Homo sapiens: one gene and its partners. The protein of the gene in region 2 purifies or fractionates together with the protein of the main gene of each other region. This does not show direct contact. Each region holds a gene or a part of one and is shown on either strand. Other genes may lie near its edges.

The links.
Region 1: the proteins of ZSCAN32 (region 2) and UBR3 purify together in Homo sapiens (affinity purification with mass spectrometry; 3 studies listed by BioGRID and IntAct, with this or other methods). This does not show direct contact.
Region 3: the proteins of ZSCAN32 (region 2) and CTH purify together in Homo sapiens (affinity purification with mass spectrometry; 3 studies listed by BioGRID and IntAct, with this or other methods). This does not show direct contact.
Region 4: the proteins of ZSCAN32 (region 2) and SCAND3 purify together in Homo sapiens (affinity purification with mass spectrometry; 3 studies listed by BioGRID and IntAct, with this or other methods). This does not show direct contact.

What each region holds. Positions count from the first base shown.
Region 1 is NC_000002.12:169,823,144-169,830,467, reverse strand, and holds the start of UBR3 (E3 ubiquitin-protein ligase UBR3), read right to left. Parts: upstream 3,015-7,324; 5' UTR 2,961-3,014; coding exon 2,416-2,960; intron 1-2,415. Other genes in the region: rRNA N(6)-adenosine-methyltransferase METTL5, read left to right, coding at 5,871-5,979. UniProt on the Homo sapiens protein: E3 ubiquitin-protein ligase which is a component of the N-end rule pathway. Does not bind to proteins bearing specific N-terminal residues that are destabilizing according to the N-end rule, leading to their ubiquitination and subsequent degradation.
Region 2 is NC_000016.10:3,390,981-3,398,004, reverse strand, and holds part of ZSCAN32 (zinc finger and SCAN domain-containing protein 32), read left to right. Parts: exon of another isoform or gene 1-260; 5' UTR 261-447; coding exon 448-813; intron 814-1,397; exon of another isoform or gene 1,398-1,632; intron 1,633-4,190; coding exon 4,191-4,356; intron 4,357-7,024.
Region 3 is NC_000001.11:70,406,557-70,414,283, forward strand, and holds the start of CTH (cystathionine gamma-lyase), read left to right. Parts: upstream 1-4,711; 5' UTR 4,712-4,859; coding exon 4,860-5,027; intron 5,028-7,727. UniProt on the Homo sapiens protein: Catalyzes the last step in the trans-sulfuration pathway from L-methionine to L-cysteine in a pyridoxal-5'-phosphate (PLP)-dependent manner, which consists on cleaving the L,L-cystathionine molecule into L-cysteine, ammonia and 2-oxobutanoate.
Region 4 is NC_000006.12:28,570,294-28,577,317, reverse strand, and holds the end of SCAND3 (SCAN domain-containing protein 3), read left to right. Parts: intron 1-1,181; coding exon 1,182-2,674; intron 2,675-3,490; coding exon 3,491-5,407; 3' UTR 5,408-6,783; downstream 6,784-7,024.

The DNA of each region.
Region 1 (7,324 bases), on a different chromosome or scaffold from region 2:
AAAGTAATAATCTCAGAGTCAAAGAATAAATAAGTTAAATCACATAAAACAGCTAGAATTTGGCCACTTTTAACCAAATAGATAAAAGTCCAAAATTTTACTACTACTCTGTTGATGAGGCTGTTGGAAAACAGGCAGTCTCACAGAGTAATTAGTACTAAGCCTTAGGGAGGGCAATTTGGAAATCACACTTTTGAGAATTTATCCCACTGACTCTCTTGACCAGGTGGGGAAAAGACAGATACACCACGTTTTTAATTTTATACTGGAAAGCCAAATGCCCATGAAGAGACATTAAATCAAGAATGGCAAATTCACACGCACAAAAAATAAAAATAAAAATAAAAAAAGAAATTAAAGAATGGCAAATTGAAAACATGGAACACTATGCAGCAGTTTTTTTAAAAAAATAGAATGACGACACTGATTTTTTAATAGGAAAAATACATCTAAGATAACCAAAAAATGCAAGATGTAGAACAGTGGAAAGTATGTAACCCTTTGCATAAAAAGAGACTGAAAAACTAGGAAACATCTTTGCTTGTTCTGCACCAAGAGAAACTAAGCGGGAAGGAACTGGACAGATAGAAGACTAGATGTGAGAAAAACTTCCGTGTGTGTGTGTGTGTGTGTGTGTGTGTGTGTGTGTGTGTACTTTTTAGCTATATATTTTACCTATTCAAATATTAAATTTTAAAAAGTACTTTTAAAGTATCAGACATACAGTTCAAGAACTCAAATGTTGGCCGGGCGCGGTGGCTCACGCCTGTAATCCCAGCACTTGGGAGGCCGACGCGGGCGGATCACCTGAGGTCGGGAGTTCGGGACTAGCCTGACCGACATGGAGAAACCCTGTCTCTACTAAAAAAATACAAAATTAGCCAGGCGTGGTAGTGCATGACTGTAATCCCAGCTACTTGGGAGGCTGAGGCAGGAGAATCGCTTGAACCCAGGGGGCGGAGGTTTCAGTGAGCCGAGGTCGCGCCATTGCACTCCAGCTTGGGCAACAAGAGAGAAACTCCGTCTCAAAAAAAAAAAAAAAAAACTCAAATGTTAGCTGCAATTATGTTGTTATTATTATTAGCAAATTCAAAATACCTCCTTTCTGAAGACTTTTTCTTACTCCCTCTGCACAGAAACCTCATCTCCCTCCTCTAGCTACCAAGTTATTGTTTAAGGAATTTATTACTTTCTACTCCAGTGCAAGTAGAGTAAGGGGTTGGTCAATGTTTCATTCATTTTTAATATCCAAGAAGCCTTGCTTGCACATAGTAGGTACAAACATTTTGGAGTAACAGTAACCTTACAAGTACTCCGAAGAAAAAGGTGACCATTTATAAAAAGATTGTACTCTGTCATTAATCCTAAGACCTGAAAATTGAAGAAGTTTAATAACTGATAGCAACCTGTAGTTGCTAATATTCTTTCAACTACTGCCCATCCAAAATCGCCCCTTTCACTTTTTCCTTTTTTCTCAGACTGTCCCTGACATTGACATCATGTTCCAAGCCACGACCCTACATGTACCAACTCTCTGTAACTCACTGCAAACTCTGAAATGTCTTTTCTCATAAGTCCCAACATCTGATGCATCGCTTCTGTCAAAAGGGCATTTGTTGTCTCCTTTTAGACAGAGGTTCACGTATCAGTGAGTGAACAAAGTGCCCTTAACTGGAGAAGACCTAACACTTGATTCCTGGTTCGCTCAGTATTTTGTTTGTTCTCCTGGTATGGAGGGTATTCTGTAACTGACTGCTCAGTAGCCCAATTCTAAATGTCATTCCAGCATACCAAATAATCCACTGACAGCTCAACAGTCACTTTTCATGCAGGCCCCTCCCCTTCCCTCCTCCCTCAACCCTCAAGAGCTCCTTCTCTCACAGTGACAGACACACTGGCAGTTCAGAAGACCTTTTCCTCAAGCGTCCTTCCCTGCACGTACAAGACCACCTCCCCAGCTCTCATCATCCCGCGAGCCAATACGGTCCCCAATAACATCCCCTCCCAGCCAATCCAAATCACAACCTAAGTCTCTTCCCAAGAACCAGGCTTTACAGCCTTTCCCAACAAGTACACACTTGACAGCTCGACACGAGCTTCCCCAAAAATCATTTCCCCTCACTCCCCTCCTACCCCATACACTGGCTCTTTTCTCGCTATCATTTACCCACCCTGGCTTCCCCAAAATTCACAGCCCGGTTTCCTAAACATGCTCTCCGCTCTCCTCTCCCCTCCTTCTCCTCCCCACCCCCTTTCCACCGCTGACAGCTCAGTCACCTCCATCCCCCTGTGGCTGCACCCTCCCCCGCACCCTCCCCTTGACAGCTCAGAGTGGGCTCCCAGTGCTCCGCTCCAGGCCCTCCCGCGACGTCCCCGGCCCAGGGTCGCCTCGCCCGCGGGGAGGGCTCCACTCACCCGCTCTCCCGCATCACGTTGCTGTCCCCGCAGTCGCAGGCGCCCCCGGCCTGGCTGCGGAACATGTTGAAGTCGTGTCCGGTGTGGTCGCCCTGGTGGAAGCACTCGGCGCACAGCGACATGCAGGGCGAGATGCCGCACGTCCGGCAGCGGTAGGCCACGAAGTTGGCTGTCCAGACCAGGCCGCAGAGCGCCGCGGGATCGTAGGCCCGCACCGCCGCGCAGAACTCGTCGTAGCCGCCGCCGCCCGCCAGAAGGCACTTACACCACTCCAGGGCCTCCTCCTCGGCCGCCCCCGGACCGCCCCCGCCTCCGGCCGCCGCCGCGTCCTCGCCGCCGGCAGCCGCGGCCAGCGGCCGCTCGGCGCTCAGCACCCGCTCCAGCAGCGCCTGCAGCTCCTCAGCACCTGCGCGGTTGTCCGGCCGGCTGAGGGCCGCCTTGAGGTGCGCGGCGGTGGCCGCCTTGTCTAGGGCCAGCCCCGGCGCGGGCAGCTCGGGCTGTGACGGCTGCTGGCCCCCGACGGCCGCCGCGGCCGCCGCCGCCATGATGAGAGCTCAGAATTTGGAGAGTCCAGGGCCAGCGGCTCCTCCAGGGAGAGTGAGGGAATAGACTGCTGCGATTGCTCGGCCCGCCCAACTCTCGCGATACCCGGAGCGTCCGCGCTCCTCCGCCCGCAGCCCCGCCCCTACACACGCCCCCTCGGGCTGCAGAGCCTTCCTCCCGCCCCTCTCTCCTGGGCGCCTGTGGACCAAGCTAGGCTCCCAACTTTCTAAGTTAAGAGCTACTGAAATAAAGTACTCACCTTATAGGAAATCTTTAATAAGGGCAATTATTTCTTTATTTGCATAGACTACAGGAATTATTCACATCATCTTTCAGATGTACTTTAGGCATCTGCATTTTGTCTGAGATGTACATTCCTACTGTTATCAAAGTCCAGCGGGCGACAGAATGAAACCCCAACTTAAGGAAAACAAAAACTGTAGGAAAAGCAATCCAAAGAAGAACAGAAGGCCAGGCGCGGTGGCTCACGCCTGTAATCCCAGCACTTTGGGAGGCCGAGGCAGGCGGATTACTTGAGGTGAGGAGTTTGAGATCAGCCTGGCTGACATGGTGAAACCCTGTCTCTACTAAAAATACAAAAATTAGCCGGGCATGGTGGCGCACGCCTGTAATCCCAGCTACTCCGGAGGCTGAGGCAGGAGAATCACTTGAACCCAGGAGGCGGGGGTTGTAGTGAGCCGAGATCGCGCCACTGCACTCCAGCCTGGGTGACAAAGCGAGACTCCGTCTCTAAAAACAACAACAACAACAACAACAACAAAGAAGAACAGGAGTGTTTCCAATCCATAACCTTGTGTTTGAAATGAATGAAACATAATTAAAACAGGTTATTCCTGGTCTTCTACATGAGTTAAGTATGTCACGATCATCATATAACAGTGATAAGTTAAATTTGCTCAATAATTTTACGAATCACTAAATTATAAACTAAATAAAACTTTATGTATTAACTTTACATGCTAAAACTTTGTATGTTTTAACTCATTTGATTCTCATAACAGATAACTTTGAATTCTGCTATTCCTAGAAGTAGCAGCCTCAGACACTTCTCTACTTCGTCATCGTCCATTCACTCTTTTTCTTCTTCCTATAATAATGCAAAGAGGTGTCCATCCACAGGCTTAAACGCAATCCTGCAATCCTTTTACTTAACCACTGGATCCTGCCTTCTCAGGATCCCAACTCCATCCAATATCCTCTTGCATTTTTAACCCCTCTCTTTCTATTAGCTCAATTCTTGTCAGAATTTGTCTCCTCCTGTCTTAAAAATAATTGAAAAAATAATAAAGCTTCCCCCATTACTAAGCATCCAACCATTCTTTTCGTAGGCCACCTTTCTCTTTCTCTTTCTTTTCTTCTTTCTTTTTTTTTTTTTTTTTTTTGAGACAGGGTCTCACTGTCGACCAGACTGGAGTGCAGTGGCGCAATTTCAGATCACTGGAAGCTTTGCCTCCCGGGCTCAAGCGATTTTCCCACCCCAGCCACCCGAGCAGCTGGGACCACAGGCTCGCGTCATCAGACCCAGCTAATTTTTGTATTTTTAGTAGAGACAGGGTCTCCTTATGTTGCCCAGGCTGGTCTCAAACTCCCGTCTCAAGCAATCCGCCCATCTCGGCCTCCCAAAATGTTGGGATCACAGGGGTGAGCCACCGCTTCCGGGGCCACGTTTAATTGTTCACATTTACTCTTTCTTCTTCCTAAATTTCCATTCGCTCCACAATCTGCTACAACTTAATTTCTGCTCCTACTTTATGAAGCCCGACCTCTTTCCAGTATTTGACACCACTACCTATTCTTTTATTTTCATTTCCACTGTCTTTTTTTTTTTGAGACGGAGTCTCGCTCTGTCTCCCAGGCTGGAGTGCAGTAGCTTGATCTCGGCTCACTACAAGCTCCGCCTTCCGGGTTCACGCCATTCTCCTGCCTCAGCCTCCCGAGTAACTGGGACTACAGGCGCCCGCCACCAAGCCCGGCTAATTTTTTTGTAATTTTAGTAGGGACAGGGTTTCACCGTGTTAGCCAGGATGGTCTCAATCTCCTGACCTCGTGATCCACCCACCTCGGCCTCCCAAAGTGCTGGGATTACAGGCGTGAGCCGCCGCGCCCTGCCTCTCCACTATCTCTTCTTTGGGTTTCTTTGACATCACCACTCCTGTGAGAATTGCAAGTGACACAAATGACCTAAAAATTGGGAAACAAAGTTACAATAAAATAAGGCATGAGAATGGAGAAGGAGGTAAAGGTGAATGGAGATCGCTACTTTTTGAGCCGAGACTTGGGAAACAAGAAGAGTCACTCTGGGCCATACAACAAAGTGACTGTGACTTTCTCTCCCGCATCCCTTTCACTCTGTCTTTCCCCATCCTTTGAGGGCCCGCAGGTACTCATGGCAAACTAGAGGGTAATGAGCACGCGACAGGCGGCGAGGACTGGCGGTGGGTCAGCAAGTAGCGCAGGCTTTGCAGGCGGAGGGGATGGGGCAATGAGGCCCCCAGGTGGCCAGCGGAACCCCGGCTCAAGATAAACGCTGCAGCTCGGCGCCGGGCCGCTGGGCGGCGAACGCGTGCGCGCGTGCGGCCTGGCGCTTCCGGCACCGGCCGAGGTGCGGGTCGCCTCCAGAGGTGCGTGGTCGTGGCGCGAGGGATCCTGAGGCTGCTCCAGCAGTGCGCCGCCGCCGTCTCCTGGGGCGGCTTGGGTTAGCCGGGAGGTGGGTCAGAGGCTCGCCCCGTGCCCTGCGTCCGGGCGTCTCCTTAGGGCGCGTCTTCGGGTCCGGCCAGCGGTGCTGAAAAAGGGAGAAGGTTGGGGGTAGGGAGGAAACAAGATCCCAGTTCAATAGATTTCTCCGCAGATCCTGTGCCTTCAAACCCTACGAGTCCATACTTTAAAACAAAATGAAGAAAGTAAGGCTTAAGGAACTAGAGAGTCGCCTGCAACAAGTGGATGGATTTGAAAAGCCCAAGCTACTTCTGGAACAGTATCCTACCAGGCCGCACATTGCAGGTAGGGCGGCTGGTTCACCACGCCCCGGCTTTCGGCGTTAGTCCAGTCTACTCTGTGATAAAAATAGAACAGTTATTTGGATACAGAGAATGTCTAGAGAAATTCTGCCCTAAGATCACCTGTCGCGTTAGAGAGGCCTTCCTTGACACTGCAGCTCAAGGCACACCCTCCACAGACATACACACTATCATTTTACTGTCTAGTTTTCTGCATATCCCTTAACACTGCCAGACATCTTTTTAATGTGTTTTTTTCTCTTCTCACATTACAATCTCTGAGGACAAGGAATTTGTTAGACTTGTTCATACTTGAATTCCCAGTGCCCAGAAGAGTCGCTGGTACTATTTAGGAGCTCAGTAAACATTTACTAAATAAGGATCAGTTTCCCATTGCTACTAATTGCCTACGCAAGGATTCTTGTGCTATATACTCTGCCCTAGAAATGAATACCAGAGTTGATAGTGGAATGATAGTTTAACAAAATCAGAGTATGTGCTGTGTAAAGATGAGCATGCATATTTTAACAGATTTTCTGAGCATTAGCATTGTTGCTTCATGCCAGATATTGATACTGGGAGTACAAGAGAGAATACAGGACAACATATATTTATGTTACCGAAGTCATTGGGAAACCTTAGGGGAAAAAAATTTTATTATTATTATTTTTTGAGATAAGGGTCTCACTCTGTCACCCAGGCTGGAGTGCAGTGGCATGATCACGGCAACTGCAGCCTTGACCTCCAGGACTCAAGTGATCCTCCTACCTAAGCCTCCCGAGTAGCTGGGACTACAGGCATGCACCGTCATGCCTGGCTAATATTTTTTATTTTTTGTAGAGACAGCGTCTTGCTATGTTGCCCAAGATGGTCTCAGACTCCTGGGCTGAAGCGATCTTCCCACTGGGGCCTCAAGAAGTGCTGAGATTACAGGCATGAGCCACTGAGGCTGGCTCCTTAGGAAAATTAATTTTCTGAGAGTACCTGCAAGGAGTTTTTTCCAGTTCCAAAATAGTTGTTTCTAAGTTGTCAATGAAAGTCAAGGAGAATACATGTGTATTTACACTTAACTCCAAGATACTGTCATGATTCCAACCAAAAATTCACACAAAACTACTGTGTCTAGGTTAAGACCAGTTTTCTCAAATAATGACTTACTAGTCTTCTGACTGTAGGTTTTTTTAGTGGAATCCAGTTTAAAAAATAATAACAATCTGGCCAAGTACAGTGACTCACCCCTATAATCCCAGCACTTTGGGAGGCCAAGGCAAGAGGATGACGAGCCCAGGAGTTCAAGATCAGCCTGGGCAATACAGTGAGACCCCAGCTCTTAAAAAAAAAAAATTAGC
Region 2 (7,024 bases):
AGGAATGACCAACGGCAGTTTGGAGGTTAAAAGCAAGATGGAGTTGGTTAGATCCTATCTCTTTTAGTGTCATAATCTTCTCACTGTTAATGGTTTTTGCAAAGGCAGTTAGCCAGGATGGTCTAGATCTATTTCTAGTGTTTTGGATCCTTGGTGTAGATTTGTGGAGGGAGTAAAGGAAAGGGATAGGAAGTAAATCACAAGAACCAGAGTGAAGGAATGTTTGATAGGTTTATATTGTCTTTTTCCATCCTCTTCAGACATCCTTCAAAGTTGAGCCCTTTTTTTCCGCTGTGAGTCTCTACACATGTCTGACACTCTCATGTCCCACGGATTACAGAAAGACATTCCTTGCAGGAGAACATGGCTTCCCAGTGATGTGGGAAAGATGGACTCTGATCTCCAGGGTAGAAGTGGCAACCAGAGTAAGCCAGTTCGTTGAAGCAAATGATGGCTGCAGTGAAGAGTACCGAGGCACACCCATCCTCAAACAAGGATCCCACACAGGGCCAGAAATCAGCCCTCCAGGGTAACAGCCCTGACTCCGAGGCCTCCCGTCAGCGCTTCAGGCAGTTTTGCTACCAGGAGGTAACTGGCCCACATGAAGCTTTTAGCAAACTCTGGGAACTCTGTTGTCAGTGGCTGAGGCCGAAGACCCACTCAAAAGAGGAAATCCTGGAGCTGCTGGTTTTGGAGCAGTTTCTGACTATCTTGCCAGAGGAGATCCAGACCTGGGTGAGGGAGCAGCATCCAGAAAACGGCGAGGAAGCTGTGGCTCTGGTTGAGGATGTACAGAGAGCTCCTGGACAACAGGTGAGAAAAGGAAGTCGGAACTTTGTGGTTTTGGTTATGAAGTTGTCGGGGAATCCAGTTACTGGAGAGGTGCTTGGTTGAGAAACACACAGTAGCCCTCTGCTGCCCACAGAAGGTCTTGGCTGTCTTGGATTGGTCCTATGCCCTTATAATACGGGAAGAATTTCTCATCTGTGGATACAGCTGCTAGACATTCATATATTTAATAATATTTGAAGTCCCTAATTAAGGTGGTAAAAACACTCAGAAAAATTCTCGAAAACAAGGCCAGGGAAAGGACAACTCTCCTTCACTCAGGGGATGGAGGAAAACTAGAGATGCTAGTGAATGAAAATCTAGTTTCATGCTAGGAGCTTCTTTGAGGGCAGAGTGACATGTGTTGTACACTCAACAAAATTATATTAGAGCCAGGCCTTGCTCTAGTTCTTGATGCCGGGATTAAGTGTTCAGTTTGGGACACTGATGGATTCATAAAATATCCTCTTACGGTCAGGACTAGGTCTGAGATCTGATTGGTGTAACCAGCTTATATTTTCTTGGAGCAGGGAGGTGGGAAAGGCACAGGAAGAGGAAAAGTAACATACCAGCTTCGGTTGTGGAAGAGTTGGTAGGAGGAAGGCAACTGAAATTGGGTAAGTCTGGGAGAGGCCTAGAGTAATGGAGGGCACAGGTCAGAGGAACGTTGGTCAGCCTGAGTGGGTCTGTGATCAGAGCAGGAAGCAGCTTGCTGGGTGCCAGAGTCTGCATGGCTGGAATGGGAAGGCCCTAGGCAGCAGATATACTTGTGTTTCCCAGTGAGGAGGTAGGGATGTGCACGGGCTGTGGGAAGAGGAATGGGTGAAGGGGGATATAGATGAAATTTGGTAGGATTGAAGAGTTAGTACTTTTGACTTAATTTAGAGAGGGGAAGAGCAGCTTGATGGTGATGCATCAGGGAAGAAGTTCAGGAAATTAGTCTGAAATCTGTGGGATTGGGACTCTTATTCATAAGTAAGATTGAATGGAGAGGTGCAGTAGCACTTGTATGAAGGTAGAACTTGGAGAACTGAACTATTATAAATAGAGTGGGAATCCCAGTATGCCAAGAGTCATCCTAGCCCAGTTCCCCTTCCATCACTCTGTTTGATGGTCTCTCCTCTTCTTATCCTTAACCATGTCGGAATCACACTTATGTTTATTTTATTTATTTATTTTTTGAAAGGGTCTTGGTCTGTCACTTAGGTTGGAGTGCAGTGGCATGAATGCGGCTCACTGCAGTCTCAGCCTCCTGGGTTCAAGCGATCCTCTTGCCTCAGCCCCCCAAGTAGCTGGGACTACAGGTGCACACCACCATGCCCAACTAATTTTTGTTTTTTATTACAGGTGAGGTTTTGCCATGTTGCTTAGGCTGGTCTTGACCTTCTGAGCTCAGGCAGTCCACCCACCTCAGCCTCCCAAAGTGTTGGGAATACAGGTGTGAACCATTGTGCCCGGCCCACACTCTTAATATAAAAGAAAACAGTGCAGGAGTGTATAGGTTAAACACCTATTTGAAACCTAATTTATTAGTCCGTTCTCACACTGCTATAAGGACATACCCGAGACTGGATAATTTATAAAGAGAAGAGGTTTAATTGACTCACAGTTCTGCATGGCTGTGGAGGCCTCAGGAAACTTACAGTCATGGCGGAAGGGGAAGCAAACATGTCCTCCTTCACATGGCAGCAGGAAAGAGAAGAATGAGAACTGAGTGAAGGGGGAAGCCATGAGAACTTACTATCACTAGAGTAGCATGGAGGAAACTGCCCCCATGATTCAATTACGTCCACCGGGTCCTTCCCATGACACGTGGGGATTATGGGAACTACAACTGAAGATGAGATTTGGGTGGGGACACAGCCAAACCTTATTACCTATCATGAAAGTGAAGGAGAGAGCAAGAAGTGGAGGTGGGTAGTAGTAATAGAGGTTGATATAATTTCTCAGGACCCCACTTGCCTCTCAGTACCTCTCTTCATTCCCTTTAAGGGTGTTTGTTATAAGCATGGGACTTAAAGAATGAAGATGGCTCTGAAAGACAAAAGTTGATTTTCAGTGACCGTTGATATTGAGGATTTTACAGTGAACAGGACAGGCACGGCCCCTGGCCTGCTGGAGCCCGCGGTCCATGGGGGAAACAGACAATCATAAATCAAAAGTAAACCATAAAGATCGTTTCAGATGAGTGCTTGGAAGGAAATGAGCAGAGTGATGTGATAACTGGAGTGTTGGGAGATAGGCTGTGAGGCAGGACTTCTCTGAGGTGACACTGAAGGAGGAGAAGGAACCAGTTGTCCCAAGAGCTGGGAGGAGAGTACTCCAGACAGAGGGCACAGCACATACCAAGAGCCTAAGGTGGGAAAAGACTGGGCGGGTTTGAGAGGAAGAAGGGAGGGCTTGTGGCTGGAGCTCAGAGACTGGGGAAGAGTGCTGTGAGAGAAAGGGAGGAGGCCGGGCAGAATGATGCTGGGCCTTTTAGGCTGCAAAGAGGAGTCTGGATTTTATTCTGTGTGCAGTGGGAAGCCACTGAAGAGTGCTGTTACTACGGAGGGACAGGACTCTAGATTTTAAAAAGATCACACTGGGTTCCATGTAGAGAGAATGGATTGGAGGGTCCAGCAGTAGAGAGGATGCAGACAGCAGATAGTGTCCTGGACCCTGATGGAGCCATGAGGTGAAGAGAGAGGACCAATGCGAGGTCTCTTTTGAAGACAGAACTGATACTGGATTTGGGGGGCAGAGGAAATGGCCTAGTGCTGAAGTCATGGGGGTTTGCTAAAGTGAAAGCTGACATTCTCTCTTCTGACAAATATATTTCAGTTTTTAACAGTTCTGGTGTGTCAGGCTCTATGCTAGGTGCTGTCATATAAATAATCTTAACCACTTCAAAGAGTTTTTTTTTGTTTTTGAGACAGAGTCTTGCTGTGTTGTCCACGCTGGAGTGCAGTGGCGTGATCTTGGATCACTGCAACCTCCGCCTCCTGGGTTCAAGTGATTCTCCTGCCTCAGCCTCCCAAATAGCTGGGGTTACAGATTCACACCACTACACCCAGCTAATGTTTGTATTTTTAGTAGAGACGGGGTTTCTTTCACCTTGTTGCCAGGCTGGCCTTGAACTCCTGACCTCACGTGATCCACCTGCCTCGGCCTCCCAAAGTGCTGGGATTACAGGCGTAAGCTACTGCCCCTCAAATACCTAATTCTATTAATTTTTATTTTATTACAGCAGCAATACAGTGGCTCCTAGATTTTTCTCTTCTGCTTCCTTATGTTACACATTTTTTAATGCCACTCTTAGGAGTTGTAAAGTCCAGCTTAGGCAGGAATTTGTAGTGATAGATAATGGGGTCTGTTCTCAGGTTCTAGATTCTGAGAAGGACTTGAAAGTACTCATGAAGGAGATGGCCCCTTTGGGAGCAACCAGAGAATCACTGAGATCCCAATGGAAACAGGAGGTTCAGCCAGAGGAACCGACTTTTAAGGGATCACAGAGCTCACACCAAAGACCAGGGGAACAGTCAGAAGGTAAGCAGAAGCCTCTGTCCTCACCTGAGGCAGGTGAGGAACAATCATTTACTGGAAACAAAGGTCTGAACTGAGTCCACCCAAGGGTTCCAGACTAAATGCCTTTGAAATACATCCAAAAACCGGCAGGGCGTGTTGGCTCACGCCTGTAATCCCAGCACCTTGGAAGACCAGACAGGCGGATCACCTGAGGTCAGGAGTTCGAGACCAGTCTTGCTAACATCGTGAAACCCCGTTTCTACTAAAAATACAAAAAATTAGCTGGGCATGGTAATCCCAGCTACTCAGGAGGCTGAGTCAGGAGAACTGCTTGAACCCAGGAGGTGAAGGTTGCAGTCAGCCAAGATCGCACCACTGTATTCCAGCCTGGGCTGTCTCAAAGAAAACAAAAAATATATATATATATAAAATATATAAATTTATATATATATATATATATAAATATAAATATATATATAAATATAGAAATATATATATAGAAATATATATATATCTCTCTCCATATCCAAAAGCAAGATTACAAATTTCAGTTGAGGGTAATAGCACTTAAAGTAGGAACAGAGATTCTTTATGTGTTAGCATAATTCTTTTTTATTACAATTCTGTTACTAAAGAATCAGGTGTCATTAAAGGTGAACATGGTTACCTTCACCTTCTGCACAGCAGTTTTTCATATACTTGAAGACATTAAATCCCCTTCCCCATCCAACTTAATCTTTTCCAGAATACATTTTTATTATTTTTGCTTTTCTTCCAGAGCTCTATTTTTTGTTTTTACTTGTCTTAATTTTTTTAGAAAACTTTTTTTGTTTCTTTGTTTTTTGAGACGGAGTCTTGCTCTGTCGCCCAGGCTGGAGTGCAGTAATGCGATCTTGGCTTACTGCAAGCTCTGCCTCCCAGGTTCACGCCATTCTCCTGCCTCAGCCTCCCAAGTAGCTGGGACTAAAGCACCCGCCACCATGCCCGGCTAATTTTTTGAATTTTTAGTAGAGACGGCGTTTCATCGTGTTAGCCAGGATGGTCTCGATCTCCTGACCTCGTGATCCACCTGCCTCGGCCTCCCAAAGTGCTGGGATTACAGGCATGAGCCACCACGCCTGGCCTTAGAAAACTTTTTAAACTAAAAAAATTATCTTGGCTGGGTACAATGGCTTATGCCTGTAACCTCAGCACTTTGGGAGGCTGAAGCGGGAGGATAGCTTGAGCCTAGGAGTCGAGACCAACCTGGGCAACATAACAAGATCCTGTCTCTACCAAAAAAAAAAAAAAAAAATTGTTTTAATTGAGGTGAAGGTCACATAACATAAAATTAACCATTTCAATGAACAATTCAGTTATGCTTAGTACATTCACAGTGTTATGCAGCCATCACCTCTGTCTAGTTTCAAAACATTTTTATCCTCCCGAAAAGGAAACCCTGTACCCATTAAACAGTTGCTCCCCATTCTGTTTCCATGGATTTACCTGTTGTGGACATTTCATATAAGTTGAATCACATGTATTATGTGACGTTTTGTGTCTGCCTTCTTTCACTTTTCATGTTTTGAGCATGTATCAGTACTTTGTTCCTTTTGATGGCTGAATATTCCATTGCATGGATATTCCAAGGGTCTATATTTTTATAAGTCTTTTTCCATAAAGTAATTTGGCTAGATACTTGCTGCCTTTTCTGTTTAATTGGAAGCTGCCATTACAGGTTGCTAGGTAAGTTTTTTTAAGAGACAGGGTCTTGCTCTGTTGCCCAGGCTGGAGTGCAGTGGTGGCATCATAGTTCACTGCTGCCTCAAACTGCTAGGTTCAAGCAGTCCTCCTGCCTCAGCCTCCCAAAGTGCTGGGAATACAGGCATGTGCCACCACATCCAGCCTGAAAAACAGTGTGTCTTGATGATGTTTAAGTTGGCAAACCTGTGTTGATAAACTGGAAAATTGTCTAAGAGATTTTAGTATTTTGTTTTTTTTTTTTTTTTTTGAGATGGAGTTTCACTCTTGTCGCCCAGGCTGGAGTGTAGCGGCATGATGTTGGCTCACTGCAACCTCTGCCTCCTGGGTTCAAGTGATTCTCTTGCCTCAGCGTCCTGAGTAGCTGGGATTACAGGCGCCTGCCACCACGCCCGGCTAATTTTTTGTATTTTTAGTAGAGACAGGGTTTCGCCATGTTGGGCAGGCTGGTCTCGAACTCCTGACCTCAGGTGATCTGCCTGCCTCGGCCTCCCAAAGTGCTGGGATTACAGGCGTGAGCCACCGCGCCCGGCTGATTTTAGTTTTTTTTTAAGCAAAGTTAATACTCTTGTCAACATCTTTATAAACTTTGCCACTTAGCATTTATTTCCTTTTAATCCTTGGGAACACCTGTGTTCTCTGTGTGTGATTTCCAAGGCTTTGGGACAGCAGGGGGCTGTAAGTAAAGAGAAGCAGGACTTGCTGCCTTCCAGGCTAGGCTCCCGCTCTTCCCAGGCCCATGGGCCACTCACAGATCTGGAGTGTTGTCACCTCCCGAAGGGTCACATACCTCTGAGTTGCCACTGAAGTTCCATTAATAAGTCATAGACATGATTCATTTTATTTGTACAATTTTTTTAATTTTCCTGTATTTTTAAGCGATGTCACAGTCATATTTGTACAATTCTTGAAGTTGGAGACTTGAGAAAAAATGTATTATCTTGGTGTG
Region 3 (7,727 bases), on a different chromosome or scaffold from region 2:
TCAACTGGAGTTGTTGTTTTGTGATTGGAAATATGTGGGGTTGTGCAACTAGCCACCAGGGAAGATGAATGCCCTGCAATTAGCCAAACAGTCCCGCAACATGGAGAATTGCTCCCCCTAAAATGTTTTCTCTCTGATATAAAGTTATAAGCGAAAGTCAAGAGCTTTTCAATTGCTGCATTACTAGTTGAATAAGACATCTGCATGCCTGGATAGTGCAAATTACCTATCTTTTTTTTTTTAAATCTCTGTGCCACTTATGAACATTGCAAAAGATATTGCTTACTTTCTGTATTGGGTCACACGACCTCTGCATAGTATTCCTCTTCAAAGGTACTGCAAATATCAGTTTTGATAGAAAAATATCAAAAGTAGCTCTCTGACCTAAGTGCTTCCCATTTATTCTACTTGCCTTATACCCCTTTCCTGGCCTGCCAGATGCTTTTAAGAACCTATTTTTGAGAACTGCCAAGTATTATTTTACCCATTTTACAGAAGAAAGTGAGACTTACAGAGATTAAGTCAATTGCTCCCTCAAGGTCACAGAGACAGCAGGTTCCAGAGGTGAGCTTCAAACCCAAGCATTCTGACTCCAAACTTCAGGTGCTTAACTGCTATGTCTGAGTTGTTATTTATATTATGTTTTTCAGTCATATTTGACTCCTTTTACATCATTGTGGAATGCATCCAAATGATTTTGGGATTACTTCTTCATCTTAAATGTCTGAAGCTGTACTCAATTCTCAGCCTAGATACTCGCTATATTAATATGAGTATGTCGCTTATCTTCTTTGTATCTATCACTAAAAGAAAGCAATTGTGCTAGAAATTTGCTCTCCAGTGTCTCTTGATATTAACTTTAATAATTCCATCAACAATATCTAGACCTTTTTATTCTCAAGACATATAATTTTCAATTATGCCATATCAAAACATAATTGATATGATTGCATAATATCTTTTTGTTACTATTTTAAAAAATTGTTTCCACCAGGAAGTGAAGGTAGGTGTCATAAGTGCTATCTGGCTTGGTGCAGTGGCTCATGCCTGTAATCCTAGCACTTTGGGAGGCCAAGGCAGGTAGATCGCTTGAGCTCAGGAGTTCAAGACCAGCCTGGGCAAGATGGTAAAACTTCATCTCTACAAAAAAAACCCACAAAAAATTAGCCTGGCATGGTGGCGCATGCCTGTAGTCTCAGCTACTTGTGGGGCTGAGGTGGGAGGATCACTTGAACCTGGGAGGCAGAGGTTTCAATGAGAGCCAAGATGGCACCACTGCACTCCAGCCTGGGGAAGACTGAGACCTTGTCTCAAAAAAAAAAAAAAAAAAGTGCTATCTGACAGGCTTTGGCCCATTGTAGTAATCTACAAGTCTACCAAATTTAGATCTTATATTGTAATATCTTCTTTCCCCTGATCCCCAAATTCCCTTCATAATTCTCATTATTTCATTGACAAAAGCCCAAGGATGAACAAATTGTTTTCTTTTGAGGTAAAACAAAACAGATCTAATAATTGCGTATGTTTATGCTTGATAATAATAATAATATATTTTATGAACATCCCTCCCAAGTCCCGATTGCACTGTTTTGATATTCAGTCACGGTATCTTTATTCATAGCCTGCCTTTAATGAGAATAGTAGAGGTCTTTGTGCATAAACACAAGAAGTACAGTGCTATTTTCATAGTGTTTAAGAAGTACTTATTATAAAATAATGTACTCTGTGTTTTATAAAAGGATCAAACAGTAAAGAAATATAAAAAATGAGAAGTTTCCCATTTCCTCTAAAATATCTGCTTTTGCTGAATCTCCTTCCCAAGAAGAATTAATAATTCTTCTGTAAGTGTTATGATATTTTGTTGTATGCAACATAATTTATATGAAAAATTAGCACACACCTCAAACTATATACCATTTATTGGATTTAAAGTGGCTATCATTTAATCATTTAAAAAGCTTTTTTTCTAAATACAGTTGTCTTTCTAAAATGTTTAAATTAGGGTTTTTGGTAGTATTATTATTGTTGAAAAGGTAATATGTGCCCATGATATAAAACTTGAACACAAAAGAGAATAAAATGTAAAGAAAATCACCTTTCCACTGCAGATCCATAGTCTCTATGACCAGAAGGATTTTTATACATATGAAATCATAAATATCTGTCTGAAAATAATGCAACATAGTATATATTCTTTTGAAAAAGTGGAAGCATGATGTATACGTTACTTTGCTTTGCTGTCTTAGATATTAGAGATCAATAGGCCAGGTGTGGTGGCTCATGCCTGTAATACCAGCACTTTGGGAGGCCAAGGCTGGTGGATCACTTGAGGCAAGGAGTTCGAGGCCAGCCTGGCCAACATGGTGAAACCCATCTCTACTAAAAATACAAAAATTAGCCAGACATGGTGGCTGCATCTGTAGTCCCAGCTACTTGGGAGGCTGAGGCAGAAGAATCTCTTGAAACCTGGAGGCAGAGGTTGCAGTGATTCGAAATGGCACCACTGCACTCCAGCCTGGGTAACAGAGCGAGACTCTGACATACCAGCACATCTCAATCTCTTCCTGCTTCTTGGCCATACTGTAGCCATCACAGAGTAGTATCATAACCAGTTAACCAGTCTTTTAAGAATGAATAATTAAGCCATTTTTCACTCTTTTGCTATTAAAAATAGTAACGTAGGTTTAAAAAGCATCCTTGCTCATCTCTGTACACATATTAAGAATATATCTAAAGGATAAATTCCTGCAAGTAAAATTTTCTACAAAAGAAATTGCTGAGTCATAGAAAGGGGATATTTTAAATCCTTGATACATATTAAGCTGCATCCAATAAAGTTTTCTCAGTTTAAGAGAGTAAAAAAGGCCTGATTTATAGCATTTGTATTGGGTGCTATCTTTTTTTTTTTTTTTTTTGAGATGGAGTCTCACTCTGTGGCCCAGGCTGTAGTGCAGTGACATGATCTCGGCTCACTGCAACCTCCGCCTCCTGGGTTCAAGCGATTCTCCTGTCTCAGGCTCCCAAGGAGCTGGGATTACAGGTGTGCACCACTACGCCCAGCTAAGTTTTGTGTTTTTTGTAGAGATGGGGTTTCACCCTGCTGGCCAGGCTGGTCTCGAACTCTTGACTTCAGGTGATTCGCCCACCTCGGCCTCCCAAAGTGCTGGGATTAATAGGCGTTAGCCAATGCACCCAGCCTAGTGCTGTCTTCTGAATGATTCTTTATTACAGTACACTAAATAAAATGTCTGTATTTATGCAACTCAGGGTTTGTCAGCAAATATTAGGAGGTAAAACTAATTGGAACTGTTTTAGACCCTTTTGGCCCCTAAATGCCATATCATATTACACAAAAATACCCACCTATAGTTATACATAAATATTGAGGTGAGTTGCAGTTGATGTTATATTTTTAAAAGAAAAATATTAATTAAATATGTATTAATATACATTAGTGTTTTGAAGTCTATCCATTTTTTCCCCCAGCCATACAAAGTTTGGTAGGATTCTAAAAGCTTGTAGGCCCTCAAGCACCACTCCTCTAGTGCTTAATGGGTTAAATGTCCCTAAAGCTAATTTGAAAAGCAAATTGCCTCATTCTTTCTCTTCATATCTTTCTTTCAAACTGTAAATTTTAAGAGCTGTTTATTCCTTATTCTCCTTGTTCTTAATTTGTTTAATAAAGTTTTAGATCTTTAGCGAATATTTTGCAACAACAGAAATATCCCCAAATTTCCTGGTGCTAGAAAACAGCCACAATAGTAAGTAGGTCAAGTCTGTATTGCTTAGGGAACAGGGAGATTTTTGTTTTAAAGCAGTGATTCTTCTGAGAGTAGGGCTCTGGGCGCAGGTGAGTGGTAAACAATCCTTTTTCCTGCAGGGATGTTGCTGTTGTGTAAAAGCAAAAGCATTTTGTGTAAGGATGTTAGGCTCCAGTAAGTATTTCAAAGCCACATTATCTTTCTCATTAGGGGGAGTTTCTCTCTGTACTTTAAAAGAAGATAATGATGCTTGAAAAAGCTCAAGATTGACTAACTTTTAGGAAGCTGCCAGAGTTGTGCATAGACGTCCTCACTACAGTAGCTTCGTTATGTCTTACGAACAATTTAACCTTCACTTCTAGTCATCGTTTCGTCATCGTAAGCACTGGGTCATTACAGAGTTCAGTGTACCTAAAACGCAAGCTGTGACTGATGAGAATCCAAGCTGCAAACTGGGCGGCTTGGGCAACTGTTTTCTTAACCACCCTCCACGTTGTGGCTTACGTCTTTTAGCACCGCCCTCAGGGCAAAGGATGGTGGTCAGAGGTAACTACCACAGTAAAAGAAGGCTATTTATGTGGTCTGTTTACAGTTACCCGGTTTCAACACTAAGCCAGCTTTCCGCCACGTCTCGGGCGAACCTCCGGCCTGAGGTCACAGAGACGCCCGGGTGGCTCTCAGGAGCCAGCATGGCAGCCTCCTCAGGACGGGTACTCAGGAATTTCGCCCGCAGGGACTAACACCACTTGGACCCAGGGACTCCAGCTTCACTCCGCTTTGTGCACTGGGTGGGGCGGTCGCGGTGACGTTTCAGGCAACGCCTCTGCTGTCAGCCAATAAGGAGCGGGAGACGCGTCGGGCCTGCGCTCAATGGGCCGCGCTGGTCCCGCCCCACTGTGATCGTGAGACTGCAGACCCGCTAATAAAATCCACCCCAACAATCGCTGTGTGCCGCTTTAGTGCGCTCGCCGTCGGCTCTACCTGCGTGCTTTAGCTCCTTCTCGCCTGATCCTTCTGTCTCTCCCAACCCCGGACACCCGGCTTCGACTGGTTATATCTTCGGTGTTCTTTTCCTCTCTTCTTCTTTCGCGGTTCAGCATGCAGGAAAAAGACGCCTCCTCACAAGGTTTCCTGCCACACTTCCAACATTTCGCCACGCAGGCGATCCATGTGGGCCAGGATCCAGAGCAATGGACCTCCAGGGCTGTAGTGCCCCCCATCTCACTGTCCACCACGTTCAAGCAAGGGGCGCCTGGCCAGCACTCGGTGAGCTGGGTCTGTCTGGGGCTGTCCACAGTTGGGCGGTAAAAGAGATACGGCTTATGAATTTGAAAGGCATGTAAGTAATTTATAATATGACTTATAAATTAGGAAGGCAACCGAAAGATGTTTCTACACTGTAATTCTTGCAGCACAGCTTTGTATCGGATGGTCCAGTGATCGTATTTCTTTTGATAAGCAGGACTGGAAGGAGCCGTTTGTCCAGCTTGCCATTTAGATTTGGCCTGAAATTCAGGTGATTTTGACAAATTTGCAATTAAAAATCGAAGGTCATAACTTTTTTGAGTTACCTTTAGCAGCATAAATTTTAAAGATGTAGTACGGAGTCAGCTTAAAAAATATTAAGGGTCTGATAACTTGACTAGAATTAAGATTGTTTCCAGTAGCTGTATGAATAGTTATTGAGTACCTACTATATGCCAAATACGTGCTCGTATATATCATGTGTATTACATGTATTGTCTCATCTAATCCTAACAACAACCCTAGTCTGAACCGAATTCTCATTTTTTCCCAATAAAGAAGCTGAGATTTAGGGAGTTAAGTAACTAGCCTTAGACTAGTAAGTATTGGAGATGGAATTCAAACTTTAGAAACTTGAGGTTGCTTTAGGAACCAACTCCTAGGCACTCAGCTACACTATGCTATCTCTAATAATGCTAGTAACAATTTAGCCTATTGCGTCATTTAAGCACTGTGGCTTAGTGATTAAGAACACAACTCATGACCGGGTGCAGTGGCTTACGCCTGTAATCCCAGCACTTTGGGAGGCTGAGGCGGGTGGATCACCTGAGGACAGGAGTTCGAGCCCAGCCTGGCCAACATGGTGAAACCCCATCTCTACTAAAAATAAATAAATTAGCTGGGCATGGTGGCGGGTAATCTCAGCTACTCGGGAAGCTGAGGCAGGAGAATCGCTTGAACCCAGGAGGCAGAGGTTGCAGTGAGCCAAGATCTCACCATTGTGCTCCAGCCTGGGTGACAAGAGTGAAACTCCAACTCAAACAACAACAGAAAAAGAGAACACAAATCTTATAGTCAAAGGCTAGGTTTGCATTCTGACACCACTTCTTCTGAGCTGGGGGACCTTGGGCAAGTTAGTTAACCTATCAAAACCTCTGACTGATCCTGTATAAATGGGGATAATAATAGTATCTACCACATAAGTTGTTGAGATGTATTTAAGGCTGTATAGTACATAATAATTACTCGATGGTAATTTGTTTTTTCATGATGTTCACATTTACACTATTTCCATTTGATCCTCACAACAACCAGGTCAGAAGGCAGGACAGGTATTATGTACTTTTTATAGAAAAGGAACTGACACAGAGTCATACATGAATGATCTGTAAAGCCTACGAAGGAGCCCTCTTTGTTAATCACATAGCTTTTTTCCCCCTTTTGGTGGCATACTTGATGGATCTTAGAGAATTTAAAAGTTGCTGAGATTTGTAAGAATTAGTTAAAGTCTGTAAGTCCAAAGCCTTGATTATGCTTTGGAAACCACTTCAGTGTGTTATATAAGTTGAGGAAAATCCTTACAGACAGTCCCTTGTTTTGTGAGATACAGTTCTAAGGCCATTTCTACAACTGGTTTAGAATACTCTTTACTGTATTTTAGAATCAAAATATGTACACAGCCTCTCTTTCTTTCTTTCTTTTTTTTTTTTTTTTATTTTTCAGAGAGAGTCTTACTCTGTCACCCAGGCTGGAGTGCAGTGGTGCGATCTCGGCTCACTGCAACCTCCGCCTCCCGGGTTCAAGCGATTCTCCGGCCTCAGCCTCCTAAGTAGCTGGGATTACAGGCGCCTGCCACTGCGCCTGACTCATTTTTTATTTTTTTTAGTAGAGACGGGGTTTCACCATGTTGGCCAGGCTGCTCTTGAACTCCTGACCTCGTGATTCACCCGCCTTGGCCTCCCAAAGTGCTGGGATTACAGGTGTGAGCCACGGCGCCCGGCTCACAGCCTCTCTTTCAAACATGCAGTTCGTTTCTTGTGTAGGGTTTAATGAAAGTGTAGCTGCCCAAGCTTTGGAACTTAGTGCAAAAGTTTACCATTCAGGTGTGATATTAATAATTAAATGTTTCCAGGAAGCCAGCAGGGATGGTTAAATCCACAAAAACTCTGCTTAATATCTTTTTTTTTTTTTTTTTTTTGAGACAGAGTCTTGCTCTCTTGCCCAGGCTGGAGTGCAGTGGTGCGATCTTGGCCCACTGCATCCTCCACCTCCTGGGTTCAAGTAATTCTCCTACCTCAGCTTCCCGAGTAGCTGAGATTACAGCTGCCCGCCACCATGCCCAGCTAATTTATTTATTTTTAGTAGAGACGGGGTTTCACCATGTTGGCCAGGCTGGTCTTGAAATCCTGACCTCAGGTGATTCACCTCTGAAAGTGCTGGGATTACAGGCATGAGCCACCGCGCCCGGCCCTTTTTAAAAATCAGCTAAGACCACTAAAGGGAATTTGAAGAGCTGAATGAGAAACGGGAGGTACCTTTCTGTGGCAGAAGCCACGTGAATCCAAACTTTTTTTTTTTTAATCTGCAGGGTACAGCTGCAGGTCATGGTAAGAAGGTGATGGTGGGGAGGGGTAAGGATATCCTGGAGCCCTATAAAATATGTCTGCTCAGGTTGGGCGCGGTGGCTCACGCCTGTAATCCCAGCACTTTCGGAGGCTGAGG
Region 4 (7,024 bases), on a different chromosome or scaffold from region 2:
CTATAAAACTATCTAGAGATGTTATGCTAATTCCAAATTATTATTTTTTACTTTTTCCAAAATAGTTTTTTTCCTTAACACTTAGCCAAATTTGAAGTATTCTTAGTGTTTCTGTTATTATGAGTATTCTAGAAATTTCTTTTAATAAGCTTTATTAAGTCAGAAATTTTTCACTGATTTTGACTCATCCAGTACTCTTATTAAAATTAGTAATGAAGCTATTTGTATTGAGTTTGTAGTTAATAGCCCTAAAAGGGAGCTGATATGAATATATTAGGTTGGAACTTACTCCTCAAATGTTGATGTAATAGCTAACCTGACTGAATAAAAGAGAAAATGTGTAGTGTGGAGATTTTTTTAAAAATCTATTATTGTCTTGCTGAGGTTCCTCCAAAAAAAAAAGTCTGAGACCGGGTGTGGTGGCTCACGCCTGTAATCCCAGCATTTTAGGAGGCCAAGGCAGGTGGATCATGAGGTCAGGAGATCGAGACCATCCTGGCTAACACAGTGAAACCCCGTCTCTACTAAAAATACAAAAAAAAAAAAAAAGTCTTTGCATAGTAAACAAACAAGTAAATGTTAATTTGCATCCTATTTTACATAAAACAGTGCTTCAATCCTGAAAACTGCTCTGGAAATTCATGTCCTGGCTTTCTGCTCTTTATTGTTTGAAACTTTTTGTTATTGGCTGGAGTTTCATTTACGCTCTTCATTCCACCAAAGTTGGATTCCTTAATCAAAATGGTATCCCCCTGGCCTGGTGCAGTAACTCACGCCTGTAATCCTAGCACTTTGGGAGGCTGAGGCTGGCAGGCAGATTGCTTGAGACCAGGAGTTCAAGACCAGTCTGGCCAACATGGTGAAACCCCATCTCTACTAAAAATAAAAACATTAGTCAAGTGTCATGGTGCGCACCTGTAGTCCCAGCTACTCGGGAGGCTGAGATAGGAGAATTGCTTGAATCTAGGAGGCAGAAGTTGCAGTGAGCTGAGATTGTGCCACTGCACTCTAGCCTGGGCAACAGAGTGAGACTCTGTCTCAAAAAAGAAAGAAAATGGTATCCCCTTTTGTGTGTCCATATTCCCTACTTCTACCTCAAGCACTACTGGCTCCTTTGGCAATATATGTCTTTTAAATTATATTCCTGAATATTCTAATTGATTTTTTTCCTTTGTTTTTAGGGTCATTTTTGTGGTTTTCCATGATGTCTCAAAGCATGGGTGGTGATAACCTCAGTAGCTTAGATACTAATGAAGCAGAAATTGAACCAGAAAACATGAGAGAAAAGTTCTTCAGAAGCTTAGCAAGGTTACTGGAAAACAAAAGTAATAATACTAAGATATTTTCTAAAGCAAAGTACTGTCAGTTGATAAAGGAAGTGAAAGAAGCTAAAGCTAAGGCGAAAAAGGAATCAGTTGACTACCGTCGCTTGGCTAGATTTGATGTTATCCTTGTACAAGGAAATGAGAAGCTAATTGAGGCTGTAAATGGGGAAACAGATAAAATACGGTATTACTTACACAGTGAGGACTTATTTGACATTCTGCATAATACACATCTCAGCATTGGACATGGTGGACGTACTCGCATGGAGAAAGAGTTACAAGCGAAATACAAGAACATCACAAAAGAAGTTATAATGCTGTATCTGACCCTCTGTAAACCATGCCAACAGAAAAATTCAAAACTCAAGAAGGTTCTAACATCAAAATCAATTAAGGAAGTTAGTTCAAGATGCCAAGTAGATCTTATAGACATGCAGTTGAATCCTGATGGGGAGTACAGATTTATTTTGCATTATCAAGATCTCTGTACAAAGTTAACTTTTTTGCGGTCATTAAAGTCTAAAAGGCCTACGGAAGTTGCACATGCTCTTTTAGATATATTTACAATTATTGGAGCACCCAGTGTCCTACAATCTGACAATGGGAGGGAATTTTCAAGCCAGGTTGTCAGTGAACTCAGTAATATTTGGCCAGAATTGAAAATTGTCCATGGGAAGTCTCAGACCTGCCAAAGCCAGAGTTCTGCAGAACAAACTGAGGATATCCGAAAGAGGATTTTCTCCTGGATGCAAACTAACAACTCATCACACTGGACTGAATTTTTGTGGTTCATTCAGATGTCCCAAAATCAGCCCTATCACAGAAGCATGCAACAGACTCCATGTGAAAGTGCATTTAGCTCTGAAGCTAAACTGGGCTTGTCCCATTCTCAGCTAACTGAAGAACTTGTTGCCAGCTTGCATACAGAAAATGAATTAGATCAGGCTGACAAAGAGTTAGAAAATACTTTAAGAGCCCAGTATGAAGAAAACATTGAGACTGGAACAGACAGTAGTGATATTGAAGAGAATCTTTCTGTCACTCCTAAGGTGGCTGAAAAAAGCCCTCCTGAGAGCAGACTAAGATTTTTATCCTGTGTAGTTTGTGAAAAAGAATGCACAGGTGTTAATAGTTGTATATCATGTGATGGAAATATCCATGCAATTTGTGGAGTGCCCTCTCAACATGGGACTGAGGGCTGTGGTCGGCAAATAACTTGTAGCCTTTGCTATGAAACCAGCACAATGAAGAGGAAACATGATGAGATTCAAAGAAGTTTGCCTGTTAAACCTTCCAAAATGCTAAAGCCATCAGGGACACCATTTTCACCAGACAAAGTAGGAGACTGGGTAAGATTGAATATCTGCCGTAGATGAAAGCAGGGGAAGAATCTCATTACAGTGTACTGTGAATAAGTGTTGTGTGACAAGGTATATGAAAGCACATTTTTATTACCTTGGATATATTTCCCCCAAAGAAGGCCTAATTACTTTTAATGCTTCTTCTCAAATCAAGTGAAGAAGTATTTGTAGGGGTAGGGGATGATAAATTTGCTTGGAAGATATGGGTTTGTGTTGGGAAAGACTTCAGTTTGGGAATTTAAATGGAGAGCATGAAATAGAACCAAAAAAATTTAAAATCAATAGGCTTTATGAAGTAGGGTTAATGTTTTGAAATATGGAGGTTACTTATGACTTAAACTAGTGGTACGCAACATGTGATCAGTAGAGCAGTACTGGTATAAAAACTCCAGTCCATAAGGAAATAAATATAAAAATTAAGCGTAAATATTTAGAAACCTTTATAACAATTGACATTACTGCAACATCCAAGCACATGATTAATGGACTCATCTTACTGAATAGAATATAGACCAATTTAGGTATTGTTAAACTCTCAAGGTGAGTCACATGTGGTGGCAGTTACACACTAGTCAAACACAATAGGTCCCCATTACAACCTGTGATACTTTATGTTTCGTTTATCAGCCATAACCCAAAGATGTATAAAACTCTGAGAAAATATAGGCATTTATTTATTTTTATAACTTAACTTTAAAATAATTTTTTATTTTAATCAAATCTAGTTTTTAACTTGTGGTATAACACTGTTAGCTGAAGGAGGAAAGTAAAATTCATATTATTTACTTTTATTCCTAATTTCAGATGGCGAAACAAGCTTCACTGGACTTTTTTGTCAAGAAAAGACATGCCTTTTCTGAACACAGTAGTAGTAATAAAAGAAATGTTAACAATAGAAGTTATCCTGAAGAAGGGAAAACCAAAAGAGTTCATGCTAGTTTCACTCGGAAATATGATCCTTCATATATTGAGTTTGGTTTTGTAGCTGTAATTGATGGTGAAGTACTAAAACCACAGTGTATTATTTGTGGAGATGTACTGGCTAATGAAGCAATGAAACCATCAAAACTTAAGCGACATTTATATTCAAAACATAAAGAAATAAGTTCACAACCAAAAGAATTCTTTGAAAGAAAGAGTAGTGAATTGAAAAGCCAACCAAAGCAGGTGTTCAACGTTTCTCATATAAACATTAGTGCTTTGCGGGCTTCATATAAAGTAGCACTTCCGGTTGCCAAGTCTAAAACACCATACACAATTGCTGAGACACTAGTGAAAGACTGCATCAAAGAAGTTTGCTTGGAAATGTTGGGTGAATCTGCAGCAAAGAAGGTAGCTCAGGTACCACTTTCCAATGACACCATAGCTCGACGTATTCAGGAACTGGCTAATGATATGGAAGATCAACTCATAGAACAAATAAAACTAGCAAAGTATTTTTCATTGCAACTTGATGAATGCAGAGATATTGCTAACATGATAATTCTTTTAGTCTATGTGAGGTTTGAACATGATGATGATATAAAGGAAGAGTTCTTTTTTTCAGCCTCTTTGCCTACAAACACAACTAGCTCAGAACTGTATGAAGCTGTAAAGAATTATATTGTTAACAAATGTGGTTTGGAATTTAAATTTTGTGTAGGAGTATGTTCTGATGGTGCAGCTTCAATGACAGGAAAACATTCTGAAGTGGTAACCCAGATTAAGGAACTTGCGCCAGAATGTAAAACAACACATTGCTTCATTCATCGAGAAAGTCTTGCCATGAAAAAAATATCAGCTGAACTAAATAGTGTACTTAATGATATAGTAAAAATTGTGAATTATATAAAATCTAATTCATTGAATTCAAGATTATTCTCTTTATTATGTGATAATATGGAAGCTGATCATAAGCAACTGTTACTGCATGCTGAGATACGGTGGTTATCACGGGGAAAAGTTCTGTCAAGAATGTTTGAAATACGAAATGAACTCTTAGTGTTTCTGCAAGGCAAGAAACCCATGTGGTCCCAACTTTTTAAAGATGTGAATTGGACAGCCAGACTTGCTTATTTGTCTGATATCTTCAGTATTTTTAATGATCTTAATGCTTCTATGCAAGGGAAGAATGCAACTTATTTTTCAATGGCAGATAAAGTTGAAGGACAAAAACAGAAGTTAGAAGCTTGGAAAAACAGAATTTCTACAGATTGTTATGACATGTTTCATAATTTAACAACAATTATCAATGAAGTAGGTAATGATCTTGATATTGCACATCTGCGAAAAGTTATCAGTGAACATCTTACAAATTTGTTAGAATGTTTTGAATTTTATTTTCCATCAAAAGAAGATCCACGCATAGGAAATTTGTGGATCCAAAATCCATTTCTTTCATCAAAAGATAACTTAAATTTAACTGTAACTCTACAGGATAAGTTGTTGAAGCTGGCTACCGACGAAGGATTGAAAATCAGTTTTGAAAATACAGCATCACTTCCTTCATTTTGGATAAAAGCTAAAAATGACTATCCTGAGCTTGCTGAGATTGCTTTAAAATTGCTGCTTCTTTTCCCCTCAACATACCTCTGTGAGACCGGATTCTCTACTTTAAGTGTTATTAAAACAAAACATAGAAACAGTTTAAATATACATTATCCCCTGAGGGTAGCATTGTCATCAATCCAACCTAGATTAGACAAATTAACAAGCAAGAAGCAAGCTCACTTATCACATTAAAAGCTTTAAATATTGATATGTAAGGTATTGGTTCAAAGTATGCATATAAGCATTGAGTGTGAGGAATTTGCTATTTCACTTTAAACTTTCTGTCTAGTTACAGTTATGGAAGTATGAGAAGTTATGAGTGAAACAGCAATTTTCTATATAAATTGCCTATATGTATATTTTCAATTAAGAATGTGTACAGTTTTTATAATTCTATTTTTCCTCATATTTGTCGTATTTATTAAAATATAATTTTAAATCTGTTGATTCTAATATTAAAACATTTGATCTTATATTTTGTGTCTTCTTCTTGTATTTCATTAGCATGTTAAGATTGTAGGACAACTTCAGGATGGGAGATGGTTTCTTTGAAATAGACAAGGTCAGTGAAAGGAAGTGAATTCAAAGGGGTAGGCTTAGAATTCAAATGCAGGGGACAGGTCAGTAGGGTATGAAGTTTGTTAAACTGATCCAGAGTGGTTAGGTTGGAAGTTGATGTTGTTTGTTTTGTAGGTGCATGTTTAGACAAAGATGGAAGGGAACACTTATTTTGTAATGGTGTTATGGCCTTGGATTCATATTGATAAATTTATTTACTTATTTATTTTTGAGGCAGGGTCTTGCTCTGTTGCCCAGGCTGGAGTGCATTGGTGCAATCTCTGCTCACTGCAACCTGTACCTCCTGGGTTCAAGTGATTCTCTTGCCTCAGTCTTCCGAGTAACTGAGATTACAGGCACCCACCACCATGCCTGGCTAATTTTTGTATTTATAGTAGAGATGGGGTTTCACCATGTTGGCCAGGCTCATCTTGAACTCCTGACATCAGATGACCCTCCCACCTCGGCCTCTCAAAGTGCTGGGATTACAGGCGTGACCTGCTGCGCCCGGCCGATAAATTCTGATTTCATAAGGATGGGCGATTGGGCCATACTGACAAGTTTATGTTAGGTGGTTTCTAGATTTTGCTAGAACTGATTGCCTTTAAGGTGCTCTGGGACAAAGTCAGAAATTATTGGCACCTCAATTAGATTTAACAACCTCTATTTTGTTTGGAGATGATTCAGAAAAATGCCACAAATATCTGCTCTTGTGTCTGTGAACTCATTTAGAATAATCGAAAGCAAATTAGTCCGATAAAACAGGTTCTTTAGCATCAAAACATGACAGAATCCATGAAGAAAATATCTTTTCCTAGACAGGGTAGCAATTTACAGTAAGTGCTTCGTTTCAAATAAATGTGATATTCAAAGTTAAGGAAAGGAAGGCTATTTAGTGATTCAGAATGTTACTAATAATTTAACCTTTTGGTAATGGAAGTTTCAAGGATCCTCCAAACCTTTGAAAGTAGAGGAAAGGTTCATATTTAGTCCTGAAACCTTAATTGGATTATGTTTTATTGTGTGTTTGTTTTAATCTTACAGCTTTTCAAAAACAAAAAACCTTATCATGGTGGATAGATTTAGAAGACAGTGGTTTAATTTCTCCCACTGACAAATTATATGCCCTCTTTCTTATCTGACCATATTCTAGAACTAAGGGATTTTAAAATGTTTTACAGTTTGTTTTATTGATTGAATAAAGTATTGTGTTTCCCATTTTTAATTTCAAAAGGCAATGTGGTGATTTTA